6 linked regions of the Homo sapiens genome follow. Changing the gene in region 3 together with the main gene of any one other region gives a genetic interaction. Each region holds a gene or a part of one and is shown on either strand. Other genes may lie near its edges. The genes, in order: SEC23IP, SEC24B, RICTOR, SEC24A, RAB5C and FUT8.

The links.
Region 1: changes in RICTOR (region 3) and SEC23IP together harm fitness more than expected from each alone (negative genetic interaction), as found in Homo sapiens cells (one large-scale study listed by BioGRID).
Region 2: changes in RICTOR (region 3) and SEC24B together harm fitness less than expected from each alone (positive genetic interaction), as found in Homo sapiens cells (one large-scale study listed by BioGRID).
Region 4: changes in RICTOR (region 3) and SEC24A together harm fitness less than expected from each alone (positive genetic interaction), as found in Homo sapiens cells (one large-scale study listed by BioGRID).
Region 5: changes in RICTOR (region 3) and RAB5C together harm fitness less than expected from each alone (positive genetic interaction), as found in Homo sapiens cells (one large-scale study listed by BioGRID).
Region 6: changes in RICTOR (region 3) and FUT8 together harm fitness less than expected from each alone (positive genetic interaction), as found in Homo sapiens cells (one large-scale study listed by BioGRID).

What each region holds. Positions count from the first base shown.
Region 1 is NC_000010.11:119,891,246-119,895,529, forward strand, and holds the start of SEC23IP (SEC23-interacting protein), read left to right. Parts: upstream 1-1,484; 5' UTR 1,485-1,537; coding exon 1,538-1,700; intron 1,701-4,284. UniProt on the Homo sapiens protein: Plays a role in the organization of endoplasmic reticulum exit sites. Specifically binds to phosphatidylinositol 3-phosphate (PI(3)P), phosphatidylinositol 4-phosphate (PI(4)P) and phosphatidylinositol 5-phosphate (PI(5)P).
Region 2 is NC_000004.12:109,440,315-109,443,814, forward strand, and holds part of SEC24B (protein transport protein Sec24B), read left to right. Parts: intron 1-3,500. UniProt on the Homo sapiens protein: Component of the coat protein complex II (COPII) which promotes the formation of transport vesicles from the endoplasmic reticulum (ER).
Region 3 is NC_000005.10:38,945,400-38,948,899, forward strand, and holds part of RICTOR (rapamycin-insensitive companion of mTOR), read right to left. Parts: intron 2,043-3,500; coding exon 1,865-2,042; intron 1,154-1,864; coding exon 1,069-1,153; intron 326-1,068; coding exon 92-325; exon of another isoform or gene 1-91. UniProt on the Homo sapiens protein: Component of the mechanistic target of rapamycin complex 2 (mTORC2), which transduces signals from growth factors to pathways involved in proliferation, cytoskeletal organization, lipogenesis and anabolic output.
Region 4 is NC_000005.10:134,725,097-134,728,409, reverse strand, and holds the end of SEC24A (protein transport protein Sec24A), read right to left. Parts: 3' UTR 501-3,313; downstream 1-500. UniProt on the Homo sapiens protein: Component of the coat protein complex II (COPII) which promotes the formation of transport vesicles from the endoplasmic reticulum (ER).
Region 5 is NC_000017.11:42,127,735-42,130,989, reverse strand, and holds part of RAB5C (ras-related protein Rab-5C), read left to right. Parts: intron 1-399; coding exon of another isoform or gene 400-487; coding exon 488-653; intron 654-2,189; coding exon 2,190-2,341; intron 2,342-2,606; coding exon 2,607-2,729; intron 2,730-3,255. UniProt on the Homo sapiens protein: The small GTPases Rab are key regulators of intracellular membrane trafficking, from the formation of transport vesicles to their fusion with membranes.
Region 6 is NC_000014.9:65,741,176-65,744,621, reverse strand, and holds the end of FUT8 (alpha-(1,6)-fucosyltransferase), read right to left. Parts: intron 2,530-3,446; coding exon 2,212-2,529; 3' UTR 501-2,211; downstream 1-500. UniProt on the Homo sapiens protein: Catalyzes the addition of fucose in alpha 1-6 linkage to the first GlcNAc residue, next to the peptide chains in N-glycans.

The sequences.
Region 1 (4,284 bases), on a different chromosome or scaffold from region 3:
GACAGTAAGCACATGAAATCGTTATTGAATTAATAAACTTAGGTTCTATATATGTGTAAACAGCTGAGCAGAGTTTCATTATTTTGAGCGTTCTTTTGGTATCTCCTCTCCCAACCTCCAAGAAGCTGAAATATGGCTTAAGTTATATTTTCCTTCAAAATCTCTAACTATGAAAGATGACAATTATGTCCAAGTTATCCACAGTACCTCCTGGATTGAAGTAAGTCAGCTTACTGTGGATATAGAAAGCTATCTAAAATGTCAGATCTCTAATTTCAATGCCCTGGTTTCTTTTTTTTTCTTTTTTTTTTTTTTAAGGAGACAGGGTCTCGCTGCACAGTGAGTGGCAAGATCAGGGTTAATTTGGCCTCAAGCAATATTCCCGCCTCAGCCTCCTGAGTAGCTGGCAATATAGGTGCTATGCCACCAAGCCCGGCTAATTTTTGTATTTTTAGTAGAGACGGGGTTTCACCATGTTGGCCAGGTTGGTCTCAACCTTCTGGGCTCAAGCTATCCTCCCGCTCTGCCTCACAAAGTGCTGGGATTGCAGGCCTGCGCCATGGCGTCTGGTTTGATTTCTCTTTTAAATATTTTTTTTGGCCAGGCGTGGTGGTTCATGCCTATAATCCCAGCAGTTTGGGAGGCCAAGGCGGGCAGATCACGAGGTCAGGAGATTGAGACCATCCTGGCCAACCCGGTGAAACCTCGTCTTTACTAAAAATACAAAAAATTAGCCAGGCGTGGTGGCGGACGCCTGTAGTCCCAGCTACTCGGAGGCTGAGGCAGGAGAATCGCTTGAACCCGGGAGGCGGAGATTGCAATGAGCCCAGACTGCACCGCTGCACTCCAGCCTGGGCGACACAGCAGACTTGTCTCAAAACAAAAAACAAAACCAACCAAAAAAACAAAAAACAAATGCAAAACAAAAAACAACAAAAATAAAACGAAATATTTTTTTCTCCCTATGGATTAAACACTTAAAAAATGTTTTACCACTTCTATTTCTGGGTCAACCACAATGTTCGGTTCCATCCAGAAAGACAAGTGGGTTTTGGAGAGGGTGTTTGGTTCCGCCTAGCATGCGAATTCCCATTCCCGCACAACGCTCTTCCTCCCTTCCTCCTTCCGGTAGCGTCCAGCAGGATTCCGCTGTTCCTCCAAAATCTTTGTCAGGAGAGCCATCCTGACGGTACCTTTAGGAAGCCCATAGATACCCGCCACAACCTGTGACTTTCAGGGTCAATTGCGTCTCAATTCGCACGTCTATCCAGAACCTGCGGGGACCACGTCCCCATCCTCCCGCCCGGCCTCCGCCTCCGAGGGTGTCACGTGCTAGACGCGGGCGTGAAGACAGTGTCGCCATGTTGATATCTGGCGTCGCCGTGTAGGGGAAGGGAGAGGGCGGCTGACTAGCTACCCGTAATTTCGGCTCCTGTGCGCAAGTGCGGAAGTGCGCTGGCCAGGAGCGTGATCGGTTTCCGGTCAGTGGTGTGGTACCGGGTACCCGGAGACGTGTATCGGACGGTGGGCCGCAGCCATGGCCGAGAGAAAACCTAACGGTGGCAGCGGCGGCGCCTCCACTTCCTCATCGGGCACTAACTTACTTTTCTCCTCCTCGGCCACGGAGTTCAGCTTCAATGTGCCCTTCATCCCAGTCACCCAGGCCTCCGCTTCTCCGGCCTCCCTGCTCTTACCGGGAGGTAATAAGGGGAGGGCGGCCCCGTGTGTGGTGGGAGGCGGGCGGGGGACGTGCAATGACAAAGGTCAGACGGGAGTTTTTCCTTCTGCCTCGAGCTACCCTCTGGATAGCTTGCCAGGATCATTACTGGCCAGGTTTGAGTGGGTCGGGGGCTTTGGGATCTTGGAGGTGGCAGGTGATGAGACTTGCTCTTCACGGAAACCCCCTGTTCCGAGTTGTCCAGAGTGCTGGACATTCATTCGTACCCTGGCATTCCGCAAATCTTTGCTGAATACCCGTTGTTGGTACGCCAGGTGCTGGCAGGAAATGCAAATAAATTAAACAGTGGCCCTCTCCTAGGGTACAGTAGTCTGTCTCCCACTAGGAGACTCCTAGGATACGGTAAGATACCTCCTAGGATGGACTGTGCCCCTCTCCTAGGATACGGTACACTGTCTCCTACTAGGAGATTGTTGTGATACAGTACAATATCTTCTAGGTTACAGTAAGATATCTTATAAGATGGACTGTGCCCCTCTTCTAGAAGCCTGTAATATTTGTGAAGTAGACATATACAATGCATTCCTTATCTTTTTTTTTTTTTTTTTTTTTTTGAGACGGAGTCTTGCTCTGTCGCCCAGGCTGGAATGCAGTGGCGCGATCTCGGCTCACTGCAGCCTCCACCTTCCAGGTTCAAGTGATTCTCCTGCCTCAGCCTCCCGAGTAGCTGGGACTACAGGCGTCTGCCACCATGCCTGGCTAATTTTTGTATTTGTAGTAGAGACAGGGTTCCACCATGTTGGCCAGGATGGTCTCAATCTCCTGACCTCAAGTGATCCGCCTGCCCTGGCCTCCCAAAGTGCTGGGATTACAGGTTTAACCCCCCACCCATTCCTCATCTTTCAAGACAATACATCACTTCTTCCAAGAAGCTGTTTCTTGTTCTCTTAGGCCCCCACTCCTATGTGCACTCCTAGCTCTTTTTTCATATTTGTATTATTGTCCAGGGAGATTGCTTTTTGATGATTATGTAGCATTGCCCAGAGCATAGTGTTTAAGAGCACAGACTGTCTGTATTCCAGTCCTTGCCCTGCCAGTAACTTGCTGTGTGACTGTAGGCATTTTACTTTACCTCTCTGTGCTTCAGTTTCTATGTATGTGTAGCCTCACAGAATTGTAATTAGAAATGCTTTAATTTTTGCAAAGCGCTAAGTATAGTGCGTGCCAGACAGTGTGATTTAATGTTTGTGAAATAAACACACCTGCCTCTCCATTTGGACTGCAGTCTTCTTCAGCAGCTATGACCTAATTGCCTTTTTATCTCCAGGATCTTATTTAGGGCCTAGTACATAGATCCTCTTTGGATGCTGAGTTTCCAGTGAATAATTTATTCTTGTTTGAAGGATGAAAGACAGTTTCATGGAGAAGCGAAGACAGGCACACTGGGAACAGCTGTACATGAAGGTTCCCCTGCCCATGTGTTATGTTTCTTCTTGATGCTTGTCACTACCTGACATGTACACATATTTGTTTATTCCACTGCACTAGGATGTAAGACCATGAAAGCAAAAACTTACTTTTATTCACGATTATATTCCCACTGCCTAGAATGGTGTGTGGTATTTAGTAGACCAATTATTCAGTAGATGTTTGTTGAATGAGTGAAAGGATGGGAGTCAAAATGATGTCTCATTTTGACCTGTGGTTGAAAGGTTAGGTGTTGCTGTCTTTGGTGAAGAACCAGCATGGTTGGAGCAGAATGCTGTGGGAGGATGCAGGAATAAATAGGGCTATACTTGGGGTTTTCTAATTATCCTCTGCACCATTAAAGTTGTTTGGTTATGTCCGTCTTCCTTGCTATGTAGTGTTTGGTTTGTGTGTGTCACTGTGAATTCATGCTAAACGTTTTCATTGTTAAGTCTGGTATAGCTACACCTGTCTTTAATGCTTTTGTTTCTTGGAGACAGTCTGTGTGTGTGTGTGTGTGTGTGTGTGTGTGTGTGTGTGTGTGTGAATATTAATAATTTTAGAACTAAAATTCATCTCTAAAAATCTCAGAAACCCATTCAGAGAATTTCCAGAGACAAAAGAAGAACCTGTCTCCCTGGAAGCAACAGTTAATCATATAAGTGGAAGAGAGACACAGGAAGCAATTTCATACATTCAGCAGACATGGAAGGCCTGGCACAGTGGCTCACGCCTGTAATCCCAGCACTTTGTGGGGCTGAGGCGGGTGGATCACCTGAGGTCAGGAGTTCAAGACCAACCTGGCCAACATGGTGAAACCCCATCTCAACTAAAAACACAAAAGTTAGTTGGATGTGGTGGTGGGCGCCTGTAATCCCAGCTACTCGGGAGGCTGAGGCATGAGAATCGCTTGAGGAGGAGGTTGCAGTGAGCTGAGGTCATGTCACTGCACACTCCACCCTGGGCGACAGAGTGAGACTCCATCTCAAAAACAAAAACCAGACATGGATTGAGCAGTTTCTATTTGCCAGGCACTGTTCCAGAACCTGGGAGACACAGAAGAGCAGACAGCCCTGCCCTCAATGACTGCACAGTATGTGTGTATACACACACACCCACCTGTGTAAGCAACTGTGATA
Region 2 (3,500 bases), on a different chromosome or scaffold from region 3:
CTAGTATTTCATGTTACTTTATCTTTCCAATTCATCTGTAATTCCTGAAGTATTTTATGCTAAAGGTATTAGAATAATTTTCTTTCCTAGAAATGAGGCATCTTCATTGTCAGCATTGTTAGAAAAGATCATGTTATATATATTCAGCCCTGGAGAAGCTACTATTTTCAATAGGCTGAGCATACTCAGAATTGTCCAGAAGGAGTGGACTAGTGAAAAGGTTGTAGGCTTTGATATAGCCCAAATTTTTGTGGAGAAACTTACTTAACATGCTTCAGAGTATAATAATACCTTTCTTACAGAGTTGTTTATAGAACTACATTTAATAAGGTACTATTTTTAAAGTACTTAGCCCTAGAAGGAGCTTAGCAATTAGAGTCCCTCCCTTCCATTTTCTTCAGAACACCGTTTTATAAATTCTTCAGGTGGCAGAAACCATATGAGTTTTCTTCATCATATGCCCAGTAGTAGCAGCTTGTAATAGGCACTCAGTTAAGTGAACTTGGTTTCCTATTCGTTATTGCTTTTGAAGACTGGCCACTGACAGGAGTCTGTGTGCCAGCTCCCTCTCCCCTTTTTTGTATTTAAGGCTCAATCACTATTTTAGTCTTCTCTTTATTTTCTTCTGCTTTCCAGTCCTCCATCCCTTATGTCCGCAAATGCATTCTTGGAAGGTTTCTGGTAATAGGCCATCTATTTTAGCTAGTTTGCTTATGGAAAGGTAAGTTTAATGGGTTTTAAGTTTTCTAAAATTGTGTGCCAGAAGTCATTTGTAACAGGAACTGAGGAAAAGCAGGATGAAGTAGCGAGAGGGAGTGGTAAAATCATGTCTTGCCTAGCCAGTGGCCAAGTCTTAACTTGTTTTCCTTAGGATTTCTGATTAATGGATATTGTGAAATGAGGTATAAGCCTGGCTTTGGAACCAGCAATGCCTGGCTTCTTTGCTCCTTACCAACGATTTGAATTCGTATGAATTAGTGGGCTTTCATGGCCCTGTTTATTTGTATATAAAAGATGATAGTGATACTTCACAGAATTGTTTGAGAAGCATATCAGATTATATGTAGAAAAGCAAGGTATCTGGCATGTAGTAGATTCTGAACCAATATTGATTTTCTTTTCTTTCTGTATTTTGAGACAGGGCCTCACTTTGTCACCCAGGCTGGAGTGCAGTGATATGATCACAGCTCACTGCAGTCTTGACCTCCCCGGGTTAAGGTGATTCTCCCACTTCAGCCTCCTGAGTAGCTAGGACTACAGGGGCATGCCACTATGCCCAGCTAATTTTTGTATTTTTTGTAGAGATGGGGTTTCACCATGTTGCCCAGGCTCAAGTGATTCTCCTACCTTGGCCTCCCAGAGTGCTGGGATTACAGCGTGAGCCACCATGTGTGGCCTTGGTTGTCTTTTGGCCCCTCACTCATAGCACTCATTGTCGTGGTATCCAAGAAGGATAATTGATGTTGTAGCAGGAATAATCTATACTTAATGCAGTGAGATTTAATCCAGTTGTTTACATAGCCTGTGTCTGTAGGCTCTGTCCGCCAGCGGTGACTGGAACAGTTACCTTCATCCTCAGGTATATTTGCAGTTTATGGAATGTAGGAGAGAAAGAATACAAGAAAACATTTCTCTCAGAGCTTGGGAAGAAGCTCTATAACTGTTATCCTTGCATTATGATAACCTAGGATATCCAGATGTAATCTGAGACTCCTCATTTTTGAAATCACCAAGGTTTGTAATTGCCTATTGCCTTAGGGGTGTGTGGGTGTGCAAGCATGCACATTTTTTATGCCCATTAAAAATCTGTATTTTGGCATTGTTAGTGATACCTTATTGGCAGGGAGAGTATATTAAAATATTCAGTAATCAGTACTGTGTATACTGACCACTAAATGGATACCATCCTTCATACCAGAGCAGGATCCTATAAGCTTTCAGCTGTGCCAGGCATTACTCCTTCAGCTGCGGATTATGAGAAGGTTTGGGCTAGCATGGTGGGGTAAAGCAGGGGAATAGGACCATGGCTATGACTCATTACCAACTGATTCAGAGCTATTTTAACATTTTAACAAAGATAATTGTTAAAATGAATACCTGGGTGCATACTGACTGAATATTGGCCTATTTCTTTGTAATTGAGTGATGAATGAATTCAGTGATTACATTCTTCGATCTGATTCTACCTCAAAGTTAGTATGAATTTATCTTAGTAGGATAAAGGAACTTGTACTTTGCTGACCTTGATGTTTGTGTTCAGATAATGGAAACTGAAATCTGACTTTGATCTGACTGAAAAAAAAAGTTGGAATTCAATTCAGGAAAATATTAATGAAACAACTATTTTTAATATTAAAATGTGTCTCAGGGAGGGGGAATGATCATGCTATTATGGAAATCTCAGGAGTAGTCAAATTAGAGATGTGGTTTTTGTTTTCTCTCTTCATTTTTTTCTTTTTAAACAATAATTGTAGTATGGTGGAAATCATGACTGTTACAATCTTATTCAGGTAACTTGCTTTATTTTTGTGTTTTCCTGTATGTTTATATTACTCATTTATCAATTTTGCACATTTTTACTAGGTTTGGTAACCTTTTTATGTCAAATGTTTTTTTCCCTATAAAATGGCTGTATTGTAATATTAGAATAATCCAATGTTGATGCTTTATTTTCCTTGAAGTTTCTCCAACTTTATATTTATGGTAATATCTCTTAAGTGAGCTCTCAGTACCAGTTAGTCCTGTGGTATTTCCCTGCTCCATTCCCAGTGTCACATGCTCCCCTTTTCCCTCAAATTCTCAGTATCCTGTCTCTCTGCCTCCCTTTCCAATGGTGACCTTACTTATTTTACTAAGAAATTGAAAGCAATCTGACAATCTGAAGATAAAGTATTAATCTTCTGCCACCAAATCTGTCAGTCTTCCTGCATATTATTCTTGTGTTATCTGAGACAAATTCAGATTATTTGGGTACAGAATTCTGTTCCCTCTCTTTTAAGAACTTTGTCCCTCCGATTATCTCATTTACCATCAATTTTGATCTTAAACACCTGAACCTTATTTTATGCAATGCATATGTAATCCTAACAGTTATATATAACTTTTATTTTAGAGACGAGATCTCACTGTGTTGCCTGGGATGGTCTCAAACTCCTAGGCTCAAGTGACCCTCCAACCTCTGCCTCCCAGAGTGCTGGGATTACAGGCATGAACCACCATGCCTGGCCTATAAATTTAATTTACAATTCCTAGCAAATATTTATGTAGCTCCTCTTTACATAACATTTTGTGCTAGATACTCTGGGCATACAAATGTGAATGTTCTCTGCACTCCAGGAGTTCTGTACCCCTCAGTAAAAGAGGAGAGGACTGTCAGCACTGAACATGTGTTTCCTTCATAAGGCCTGTGAGAAGGGTGCCCAGAGTTTTGAAGAGGAAACAATTCTTTTTGGTTAAAGTAATAGGGAATCTTAAGGGAGGAAGTTAGAACTTCAGCTATA
Region 3 (3,500 bases):
GAATTAGAATACCAAAAAGAAATTTGGAAAAGTAAACCAGAGAACTTTAGTCATCACTAGGTTTTTCTGAAGGTGGGACGTGATCACTTACCTGAATGACTACATATTGCACTCAGTTGGTTGCTGGGCTGGAAACCCAGAATTTCAATACAGACACAATAAAGGCAGTTATCATCTGTATGTTCCTGTAGTCCAGTGTCTTCTGTACTTTCTAAAAACAGAGAGGCATCTGAATGGATTGAATTCATTATTTCCGTAAGACTCATCTGCTGTCGTAGCAAGTGAAAAGAATTTTTTACAAGACCTCCAGTTCCAGATGGAAGACCTGTGCATAAGTAAATATAAAACATAATCCAATAAAGATAATACTTTTCAAGGTACCTTAAATTATGTGAAATTTTAAAGAAAGCTTAAGCACATTTTATGACTCAAAATCTAACTGGAAAGAAAAAAAGAATAATTTGCTTTAAGTTATAAAAATAAGGAAAGCCAGCAGATGTTTATTATTTTAATATATAGTGTTTTAAATACAAAATGGAAAATTGAGATTATATAATACATCATTTCAATTATCGTCAATATTTGCCTAAAGATATGTAATAATTCTAAGTATAAAGAGGCATTTGTTTAAAAAGTCATTAAGAATATAAAGCTATAAAACCTGTGGCTTATATTTACATATTAAAATATAACAGTTCAAAACAAAGACCGTGTATTTTATAAGTACATTTCTTTCTCCTTACTCTAAACAAACAGCTATTTCCTGGATCTATGAGGATTAGTGTTATACATTGTTCATGTGCTACTTTTAAAAAACAGAAACAACTAATTTGGTTTCTATTTCCTTGAAAGGTTGAGTACTTCACTGAAAACACTGTTAAGTCCCTCACACATACACAAAAATGTGGTTTAATTTTAAGCTGACTTTAACAATTGTTTTGGTATAATTTTAAAGTTGATCCAAAAGTGAGTCTTCCTAAATTTTTAGTGTTATCCTACTAGAAAGAACTAAGAGTTTTCTTTTTAATATAAAGAGGCATCTCACAAGTACAATGCACAATGCATTACCTCCTGCATCATGGGCAAATGCTCTTGCACCTCGATCATCATGTGGTGGTATGTTTTTTGTCTGAAAATAGGGAATATCCTTTACCTAAAAAAAGATATAAACCATGGTAAGTCCTGCTATAAAAATAAGCCCACTTTATGAAAATTAGCAAAATTAAACAAAATAAAATTAAAATAGAATTACCATAGCATATGAACCTATAATCAAGTTTACTGAAGGTTCAACTACCAAAACTTAACAAAATAACCCAAAAAGTCCTTATTATATTATTAGTGACTAAATGGACATTAATTATTTTAGCGTTTATCTAAAATGTCTTTCAACTTCTAAGAAAATGTGTTCTTTAGTACTATATACCATCTAGAGATCTGTGGGTATCTCCTGGGATTAGGGTCACCTTATATTACTGGGTACCACATATGGCTGGCTACCTTTTATGGGATAAATAGGAATGAGGATTTAAAAATGAGGTATAAGTTAAATGTGACTAAAAAACAAGTTAGAAATTTCATAAATTTCTACAGAGAATATATGGATAAAGAAATCAAATGAGATACTGATTTAATATGGGAAGAGAGGGAAGGATAATGTTCTAAGGACTAAATAAAAGAGTACAGAGTAGTTGAAAAGGGCAAAATAATTTTAATCTTAAAGTTTCTTTAAACAAAACGGTCTTAAAAATCATGCTGCCCCAAACTGGTGCCCACCCTAAATTATGATTTCTAGTAAGCAGTTACAGCATATGAAAAAATAGGAAACCAACTCATAGGAAAACAATAAAATGTATGATAATACCTGGAATATATCATTTATATCCACCGGGAGAGCAAGACCAATGTAATCATCTGAACCCCCATATGTGGCACTGGACACCATGGACCGCACTGAGGAAGATCGTTGCAGGGTATTTTGATTAATAGGACTCAATAAATCTTCTTTATCTAATGATGCATAACTTAAGGCTTTCATGAACCTATAAAACCATAAAGAAACCACTTGCATTAGTTTCTTGATCTGTAATTTTAATCATATGAAGAAATAACATATATTCCTACCTTCATAAAAGACAAGTAGCTAGTCATGTATTAAGCAGTGTCATCTTGTTTACTGGCAACACATAAACACTTTAAAATATTAGCTGTTATAGACCGCTATGTAAAAGGTCACCAGTAATGTTGACTGTTACCAAAAACAACTGTTATGGTCTCTCAGGTAAAGGTGAAAAGGTGGGCAATTAGAATAACTTTCAACATCTAGAAGTAAAAAAAGAAACTGACCTCAGTAGTCAGAGCATGGTCCAAGGACTATCTTCATAATCACTTGAGACTACTAGATTTGGCATTTATGTAACTAAGGATATGTGTATCAACTCTATTTAATATTATATTTATAAAAAATGAGATCAATTACATATCATTATTTGTGTGATAATTACCTTAATGCCTTCATTATCAACATAAGATTTATGTAGCACACAAGACAGACACAAGAGCAAAATGGTCATTTATGACGAGATATCCTTGTAAAAAGCACTGATATTTCCACAATGTACTGATATTTCCACAATGTACTCCTTACTACTAGAGATTCCATAACAAATATGATACACTGATATTTCCATAAGATACATGTTTCTCATACAGATTCTTACTTATGCAACAGACATGCTAAAATATTTACTTGGTATCTGCTGTATATATACAAGGCACTATGCAAGGTTCCACATTTATATACATTTATATGAAGATATTTTTGTTTGGAAAACCAAGTCTTTAAAATGTACGAATGCAGCCTAATATTAAATCAAATAATTATTTTGTAAAACACACAAAAGAAATGCTTTCTAAATAGTAGCTATTAACATAGCAAAAACCATGCTCCTAATTTCCACCCAAAAAACACTCTTTCAAACTGTAATCTGTTACATTTCTTTGGTTCCCATAAAACTCTTCAAGGATTACTGGAGTGGGAGGAAAACAATTATTGGATTATTCCCCTTCCCAATTCCTATTTCAACCAGTATAGGTCCCTTTCTATCTATTCTACCTATTGGGTTTCCACAGAAATCTTTATGTGAAAAAATAATTTCTCTGCTTAAAAAACAACAATACAAAAGTTTACAACCACTGATCTAGTGCAATCTCCACCAGATGAGGTAACTGAGGCTTAGGAATGTTCAAAATTCATGAACTTTACTGCATAGATTTGTAACAGTGAGCTGTTGAGAACTTTCCCTGGCTTTGTCCTGGACAAGGTTGCCAAAGCTAGTGAGTTCCAGATAGATGAGACATTGCTGCATAATTTCTTAAATCCTGTAAGGGTACACAATTCATTGTCTGCTACCAAGAAACCCTCTATTAAATGTGTTAAGCATTATTGAAACAAAACTGCTTAATGTTATTAAGAATAATGTAAGGGCTAGATGGATTAC
Region 4 (3,313 bases), about 96 Mb from region 3:
TTTGGGATTACAGGCATGAGCCACCACACCTGGACTTTTTTTTTTTTTTTTAGATGGAGTTTTGCTCTTGTTCCCCAAGCTGGAGTGCAATGGCACGATCTGGGATCACTGCAACCTCGGCCAGGGTTCAAGCGATTCTCCTGCCTCAGCCTCCCAAGTAGCTGGGATTACAGGCATGCGCCACCATGCCTGGCTAAGTTTTTGTACTTTTAGTAGAAATGGGGTTTCACCATATTGGCCAGGCTGGTCTCGAACTCCTGACCTCAGGTGATCCACCTGCCTTGGCCTCCCAAAGTGCTAGGATTACAGGCGTGAGCCACCACGCCCAGCCTACTTTTAAAAACTATTTTGTAGAGACAAGTTTTCGCCACCTGGCCCAGACAGGTCTTCAACTCCAGGCCTCAAGTGATCCTTACACCTGGGCCTCCCAAACTGCTGGGATTACAGGTGTGGGCCACCATACCAGGCTCATATCACTTTAAATAACTAGTCACTATATATAAGCTCTTTTCAATTAACTTTATTGAATAGCCAAGTTGATAAGTTAGCATAGATCAAACAATGGTCTGCATGGGTTACAAATGACTTTTTTTTTTTTTTAACAGGAATAAAACAGTGAAAATTACAAACTGTAAAAAGGAAGACAAATCTTGTCTCCAACTTTTCAGAGAAGCAAGATTTAACACAGCACATTGAAGATCAATACATATTTGAATTTAAGAACAAGAATTTAATATTACAATATTATACACTACTTTACAAAATTAAAATTTCTATATAAGGATTACATTTGTAATAGTTAACAAAATTTTGAAATCACATTTGGTGGTCCCCTAGATAATAGCTGTTATGCATCTTTGATTAGAAGAAATAAATCTTTATTCTAATTATTGCAAAACAGTCTATTAGACTCAATACATTAAATTAAAAACAGTGAAAATATATGCAAACTAAAATAAATGGTACTGCTTGAGTGACTATTAGTATGTCAGACTTACAGAAATGTTATTTTAAAAATCCTAGAAATTAGAAAAATAGAGTACTTTTTATGGTAGAACTGCCATGCTCAGATTTAAATACCAAGATTGCCCTTGTCTGTTACATTAGTAGTTGTAGATCTGTAGAAAATTCAAGGATCTTTCATAATTTACAACTATAATTAAAAAAAATATGGCATAGTGTAAATATTAGTCGCTTTACATCAAAAAGTAATACAAGATGATATGGCAGGTAGTGCCCTATTGGGGGAAAAAAAAAGAATCAAACTAAAAAACACATTCAACATTGCAAAAAATAATTGCCTTATATCAGTATCTCCAAAGGCTCATTCATTCTCTCATTATGTGGAGAACAAATATTGTGAATCCTAACTAAAGTTATGTTTTTCATGACCTGTTATAAAATTATTCTGAATTGCACATGTTACACCGTATCTAAAATAATATTTAAAAGTAAATTTGTGAAATATACTAAAAAAGCATGTGGTAATAACAAGAGTCATACCCACTTAGGGATGTAGTGAGGCACAAGGAAGATTATCCCTAAAAGCACAAATGTTTCCCTCTAGAAGATTCTTTACTACTAAGAAAGGACCTACAAATAACTCCATTTAAAATCACATTAAGAGGAACATTTTAGTTATTTTAAGAAACATCAGCATATAACGACTGTTTCTTTAAAAGAGGGGATAATATAATTCGCTACAATTTGAAAATTGCTTCTTAATAGATGAAGCAGCTTTCAAGAAAACTTCCAGTTCAATGTGCCACTTACACACTGCAAACCAACCTTAACACTGCTTAAGGGAGATATTTTCATAAAACATGATTATTTTGATCCAGCTGGCAAGCAGTAGTTGTATACTGTAGAGGGACTGCTTCTTCCCTATCCCAAACAACTCAGTTAAAGTCAGCTCATATTGATATAAACCTGGAAGTTACTATTCCATTGGTGATCATATAAGACCAAGATTGTAAACATTTTCTAACCCATTAAAACAAAACAAAAAACCCAAAAATATTTTGATCAAGTATTATACATGAACATATTTAAGAAATTCTTAAGACAAAATGAATCTGTGAAAACTGAGCCAAACTCTTAAAGATACTATGTCACAGCACTTTAAATATACAAATGTATAATTTACCTATTTGTAAACAAAATTCACTCAATAGTTTTGACTATAATATTTCTCTAGCTGAATCAAGAAAGCAGTCTCTTAAGGATTTTCAGAAGTCAAGTTTCTTTCATAACTTTAATATGTTGGATGTGTATAATCTTAATATCCACCAAATCAAACAGCAGCATTTATGCTTTCATAGATTTTCATATTCAAGCATAAATATTTCTTATGAATGACTTCCAATTTAACAATTAAACTCCTTAGAAAAATGTTACTGATGTATTTGGATAGCACTTTAGAAACCTTTCATTTCTTCACTCATTTCACCAAAAACCCCCACTTTTATTATATACCCAGAGCAGAAATGCACCAAATAAAATCCACTTAAAGGATCAAGATAATTAAAGTTTCTTATCTCCCTATTATCATTGCTAGTCCCAGTGTTTATGAAGACAGCTCAAATTCTTTTCACTATAGATTAAGACAGTATGTCCAACTCTTCATCAGGAAATCAGAAAACCACCTAATGATAGTTCTCACTTCAAATCAAAGTGACTTTGTTCTTCAAGCATAAAGAATACTGACAGATTTTAAAGCTTGAATGTGTTTCTTCATATTTTTCTCAAGCTATACTAGAATTAGTTTAGTTTTAGTCAACATGATCCTTTCCCTTAACAAAGAAAAAAAAAAGACACGTGTGGGGAATGAATTCTAGTTTTCCTACATTATATTTACTTTCCATTGTTTTTATTTTAAAAACATCACTACCAATCAATTTGTAACTTCCCTGCAACACTTAGGTTTGTGAGGTTTTAAATGTAGCAGCCAAAGATTCAGAAAAATTAAAAATGAGAAATATACATGTAGAACACAGAAATCTTTATTTTACAAAATGTACTTTGCCTCTGCAATATTCTTATTTTAATCCATAACAACTCAAACATAATTGGCAAGAAAAAAGTATCCAATCATACGTAGCTATATTCTGATTTGAAAAATACAGTATTTCAGAGTTGCATGTTTGATTCTCTGCTGTGGTCTTTTATTTGCTATAGGTTGTTGAAATCACAGTGAGAACATCTCAATCATCACATTAGTCCACAAACATAATAGAAAAAGAAGGTATTACACATTTCCAGGTATTCTGCACTATCGTGACATTCCTTAAAAATAAGTCAAATTTCTTCATTC
Region 5 (3,255 bases), on a different chromosome or scaffold from region 3:
GCTTTTGTTTTGTTTTGTTTTGTTTTAATTTTGCCCCAAAAGCCTGTTGACTTAACTGTCACCAGGCTGTCACACATTCATTCATCGCCTGTGTGTGTTTATTTGTAGGTGAATGTACATATTTGGGATCCAGAAGTCAATGTGTTTGCTCAGAACCATGAGCCTGAAGTTGGGAGACCATTCTCCTCTTTACAGCTCAGATGGTGGTAGAGCCGGTAGACATCTAGTATAGCCCAGTGGGGCCTCCTGACCTCTAGTGGGGAGGGCAGGGAGGTGAGGTGAGGGGAAGCAGTCAGCTAGGTCTTCAGTGAGGCCAGAGGGAAAGATCTGTAATTTAAGAAGGACACAGCGGGTGACGGCCTCTGAACTAACTCAGTACTTCTCATTTCTCCCTTACAGTTGGAGGTCCCCCTCCCCACTAAGTGCCTCTTTGCATAGCACCAGTCCCCACCCGCACGCTCTCTGGACCACTACAGCTGGACGGGCAATGGCGGGTCGGGGAGGCGCAGCACGACCCAATGGACCAGCTGCTGGGAACAAGATCTGTCAATTTAAGCTGGTTCTGCTGGGGGAGTCTGCGGTAGGCAAATCCAGCCTCGTCCTCCGCTTTGTCAAGGGACAGTTTCACGAGTACCAGGAGAGCACAATTGGAGGTGAGTGGGCATGAGGGAGTCGGGGAGGGGCCTGAAGGTTGCCAAAGAAATGCTTTGACCTTGAGGAGATGGGAAGCTGCCTGCCTGCATTAGGGACTAAATGCGTCTGTGGTGGCAGCCCCACTTCCTCACCTGGGCCCTGGAATTGAGCCCAGCAACTGGTCTCCATGCCAGAGTCCCCTCAAGCATCGCTAGTAAGCATTTGCTGGGAGTGGAAAGCTAGCTTCCCATCCTGTTTCTGCCCCTTCTTGATCTGTGTGGCCTTGGCTGAGGCCCTTTCACTGCCCTGGCCTCATGGAGGGAGAGCTGACTCTGGATCTTTGAGGCCCCTTCTTACTATAATGGGTGGTCCATGTGCCCTGGCCTTTCCCACTTCCAGAAGAAGGAACAGCCTGGTGAGTCGGAGCTGGGTGATAGGTGGGTGTTTCTGAAGCTGACTTTACCCTTTCTGGAGCTCACAGCCTGTTGTTGATTTTCCAGTGGTCAGCATTTAGGATGTGAGTGAGGGTCTGGCCTCGGCCTCTTGCCTCCGTGGCTAACACACACATCAAGAGGCAGGGGCCAACGCTGGCCTTGGCCTTGAGTCATCCTTTCTCTACTCTCTTGGTAGGAGGTTTCTAGGCAGCTGGAAACAAAATGGGCCATGTCAGCAGTCTCCCTGCTGCCTCCTCAGCATTTGGGTCAGGAGCTGGAGAGGGGAAGTGAGGCAGTGCCCCATGTCCCTCAGTGAGCTGGGGGAGGGCAGACCAGGAAAGCAGCCTTCTACACATGGCTGTCCTGGGTTCTCTGCTGGGTCCAGGGGCAAAGGGGCCTTTTGCTGTCTGTCCCAGCTCTGGACTCCTCCTTTGAAGCATGTGTACAGGCACCCTGCATTCCCCTAAGGAGTCACCTCTTAGTGACTGAAGGTCAGGTCACAGGGTGGCCATACAGGAACAGGTCTGGGTCAGAGCTAGGGGCGGTGGCTAGCTGGAGTGCCTGGAGGTGGTAGGGGTGGTTGGGAAGCCGGCCACCCAGCCTCAGCCTGGTGGTGGAACAGTGTGTACTTCCCCAGCATAGCTAAGTGTGTGAGAATGTCCTTAGGAAACCCAAGGTCAGTGACACCCCTGGGCTGGAGCAAACTGAGGGGTGGAGCGGTCCCTAGCTGCTGGTCTGTTCTCTGAGTGGCGGAGGAGGAGGTCTGAGGGCGCTCACCCTTCTGTGCTTGGAGTAGGCTTCCCCTAGGCTTTCCCTCTCTTGCCCCTGCTGTGTTGCTCTTCAGAGAGTGGTCCTGAGATGGCTCAGTGCATGCAGGAGTCCCTTCTCCTGCCGTTGCCTGGGCTGGGTCTGCAAAGCCTGTGCAGACCCCGTCCCCCAGACACATACATAAAAATCCAAACTCCACCCCCCACTCAGGCCTGCTTTGGCTCCTGGCTTGAGGGTTCTCTGTGCCCATCTCAGTGGTGGGCTTCTGAGTGCCAGAGCCTAGAAGCAACAGTGGGATTGTGTGGGGTGGATTCCAACTCGCTCTTGCCCATGGACGCTCCTTCTCTCTTACAGCGGCCTTCCTCACACAGACTGTCTGCCTGGATGACACAACAGTCAAGTTTGAGATCTGGGACACAGCTGGACAGGAGCGGTATCACAGCCTGGCCCCCATGTACTATCGGGGGGCCCAGGCTGCCATCGTGGTCTATGACATCACCAACACAGTAAAGATTTCCCCTTGCTTCTTCCTTTGCCCTTCATCTTCTCAAAGTCCCAGGGATTGGGTTATCAGAGCCCTGATTTCAGGCCGCTTAACCCTCTGTTCCTGGGTGGGGGGTGGGCAGATTTCCTGTTTGGGGACATTGCATCAGAATCTTTAGGTGGCAATGTCTTAGATAATTTGGCTGTGCCAGCTTGAGAGTCTCTAATGGGTGGCCCTGGGCAGAATGCCTTCTCTGTCCCTTCGACATTCTGTCCCTGTCTCCTCAGGATACATTTGCACGGGCCAAGAACTGGGTGAAGGAGCTACAGAGGCAGGCCAGCCCCAACATCGTCATTGCACTCGCGGGTAACAAGGCAGACCTGGCCAGCAAGAGAGCCGTGGAATTCCAGGTGGGGAGATGACAGACTTGGGGGAAGGAGTGGAGTAAGCAGCTCCCCCCGGCCTCGCCTGGGATGCTCAGGGGCTTTGGGAAGGGCCATGCTAGGAGGCAACAGGGAAGCTTCCATCTGCTGTCCTCTCGTGCCTCAGGCATGGGCCTAACATGGCTCCTGTCTGTAATCCCAGTGCCTTGGGAGGCTGGAGTGGGAGGATCACTTGAGGCCAGGAGTTCGAGACCAGCCTAGGCGACACAGTAAGACTCTGTCTCTGCAAAAGATTTAAAAATTAGCTGGGCTTGGTGGCACGCACCTGTAGTCTCAGCTGCTCAGGAGGCTGAGGCACGAGGATTGTTTGAGCCCAGGAGTTTAAGATTGCAGTGATTGCAACACTGCACTCCAGCCTGAGCAAGAGTGAGGCCCCATCTCTTTAAAAAAAAAAAAAAAACAGCCAGGTGTGGTGGCACACACCTGTAATCCCAATACTCTGCAGGCTGAGGCGGGAGATCACTTGAGCTTAGGAGTTCGAGACCAGCATGGG
Region 6 (3,446 bases), on a different chromosome or scaffold from region 3:
GAGAACACATAATTTTTTTATTTATGTGTTCTCTACTGAGAACAAATAATTTTTTTATTCACTATATAGTTATGTTCAATGTTTTGTTCGGTTATGTTCATAGTTATGTTCATCTGTTATGTTCAAGGTTCATAGTTTTATTCACTACATAGTTATGTTCAATGAAAACATGCATGTAGTGAATAAAAAAATCTCAGTAGAGAAATATAAAGAATTAGGGAGAAATTCTAGAACCAAATGATAAAATGTCAAAAATTAACTCTTCAGTTGAAGACTCCCTTTGGGAAATACTCCTTAATTTATTTCCTTCGTATCTCTGTTCTTTGGTCCTTTCACCCCTGGAACTCGGTCAATTTAGAAGGAAAAGAGACTAACTTAATTTACCTTTGGATCTTCTATAAGGGCACAAATCAGATCCACAGTTACTGATGTTCCAATGACATGTGAGATGCGAGTTGCAAAATAACTCATAATCAAAATTACCTCCGCTCAGTTGGAGATTGTTTCAAATGACTTTTATTTGTACCAAAACTAAATGGAAAATTGCTTGCTGACACTGTAGGAAGTTAATTTCTTTTTTCTTTGGGAGGCTTGACTTGAGAAAAAGAATTTAGTTAAGTTTGGTGGTGAAATTTTATATACAGTATTTTCATTTGGTGAAGATATGAAGGCCAGGACTAATAGCTCTTCTGCCTAGGATCCCTAATATTTCACACTAGGCCTGATAGTCGCTCCTACAGAGATGACATTTTTCTTTTAGAATGCAGTAACACCTACCAGGCCTCTGTAGGAGGCAGGCTACATACAATAAGGAAGTGTTTTTATGAGGAGAAAAATGATGCTCAGAGACAAAGCATCAAAGTCTTATTTTCTGAAGTGATTCTAACATGGAAGAATTTGGAAAAGATAATCCCAAGACTCAGTCCATTGTGAGTCTCCCATTGGTCCCGCTTCTCACTTGGTCACCAAGTTCTGCACACTATGAGACATATACTTCTGAAACAGCCAGCTTCCCAATCCCAAAGATACCTGGTACTCTCAAAAGCAGGGCATGATAGGCTAGGGCAGAAATTGGTTCCTGGATAAAACAGGACCCTACTCACAAAAAGCGATAATAAATACATTAAGAAAGACTACCAAACAAACCTGAAATGGTTTTAGAAATGGAGGTGATAGCTTCTCTGGGAGCAAGGAGTTATGATTATTTCACTCAATTAAAACAATGTCCAAAATATGAGAATGAAAGCTCCCAAACAGTGTTCTTAGCAATTTTGTAATGTGTACCAATGAAAATTGGTTTTCAGTATTAAAATGGACCAATGTCTCTGAGTTAAGAATTAGTTACTATATCAGAAACAGGAAAAAAAACAAAGTAAATAAGCTGAAAAACTAAAAAGCTCCTCTTTTTATCACAGTTCTTCCACATAAGGCTGATCAACATATCATCCAATGATATAAAATTCTAGAAACTTTACAAAATTCCTTTTTAAAATTTATTTTTTGTTATCAAAGAGAATGTCCAGAAACATTGAGTACTAAAGAATTTGTTCATGGCATTGTTTTACAAAATTTTCTAATGGAGAGTGAATATTTTATTTTCTGATGTATTCTTCACTTATTAATGATGAGGTCAATGAACTGATGCAATTATTTAAAAAAAAAAAAACAGACAACCTTATAAAGGAAAAAACAAAAACAAAAACAAAAAAAAACCAAACGTCCATTCTCATTCTGAATCTGTTGACTGGAGTGAATTCAGTGGTCACAATACCACCATCAAATAAGAATCAACTTCCTCAGAGTAAGGAGCTGTTCCGATCTTCTCAATAGTTCACACAGGTCTCTCAGATATAGGCACCATGTTTTAAGTCTCACACAAAATGTCTGTGTCACTTAAATTACACAATATGGCAGTGTTTGTCTTATGGGGACATACTGAAAGGGGCAAAGTAGAAAACAACCTGTTTGCATGTTATATGTGAGTACATTATTGTACTGTGCATGGGTATGAGGGCATTGCAGCCCTTGTTAAAGAGGAATTCCACCAATTGAAGCCTATGTCAGTTCCCAGCTGCTCTTGGTGCTGAGAGTATCTACTCATATAACCTTATTTTGTTAGATCAGAGCCCTCTTCATCTACAGTTTGGCTGAAATGGTTTGAACTGAGTTTGGTCGAACTGAGTTTGGTCGTTTATCTCTTCCATCTGAGCTTTATTTCTCAGCCTCAGGATATGTGGGGTACTTGACCGTTTCTATCTTCTCTCGAACTTTGTAGGAGGGATATAGGCCCGTCCTTCCCAATTTCCTGTTGACACCTTTAGAATAGCCATCCCAATGATTTCCAGCCACACCAATGATATCTCCAGGTTCCATGGGAATTTCATCTGCAGTTCGGGGTTGGTGAGCATAAATGGCAATTTGATTGTGGGCATTCTGGCCCCCAAAATAGTAGATGTCATCTAAAGAATGGAAGTTTGCAGAGGCATCAGGATGTAGTGTTTGCATAATTTCATAAGCAACTCGACAGACCTTGGGAAAGAATTTAAAAGAAATTGTTAGTATATAAACACTCTCCTTCACAGCAATCTAAAAGCCCTTGGCCAAAAGGATGGGCTCTAGGAGTAAGAGGTTGAAAAGTAGTGGATTCTAGTCACAAGCTTTCAGTCCATTTGTTCTCAGAAGATGGTACAAGTCATTCTTCATCTCTGTGTCTGGATCCTTTTTCAAATAAAGAAGAAAAACTCACGAAAGATTATTACAATTAAAATCTCTCTATCTCTATATAGTACAAAAGAATTTAAGAATATGAATTAGTTAATTTTAACAAACATTTATTAAGAGCTACATACACAGTGGTCCAAGCTAGGCACTCATGATACCAAAATGAGTAAGACATAGTTTGTGCCCTTAAAGAATTTGAAGTTTAGGATTAGGATAAAAAAACTTAACACAAATAAATGCTGATGGTCCCTTTCCTTCATACACTGTTAATCAATCACACATTCTCATCTGCTAATTTATAACTTGGTGTCAGAACTGTTTTCTTTTTTTTTAAATTATACTTTAAGTTTTAGGGTACACGTGCACAACGTGCAGGTTAGTTACATATGTATACATGTGCCATGTTGGTGTGCTGCACCCAGTAACTCGTCATTTAACATTAGGTATATCTCCAAATGCTATCCCTCCCCGCTCCCAGAACTGTTTTCAAGAGAGATTCATGTAATTACTGACAATCAACAAGCACTGGCAAGTGAGCTAAAACACATCGGCAATTTCTGTTCTAAAAAGTTTTAAGTGTGCTGTGTAGAGAGTGGCATGCTTGGATGACATAAACTGGGCAAGCCTTTGAGGAAATGCATCACCCTGATTACTATAGTTTTAAGGCTACTTAAAAGGTCCCTATGTCCAAAGAATACCCTCTCTGCTCACTGGATAGCAGGTGA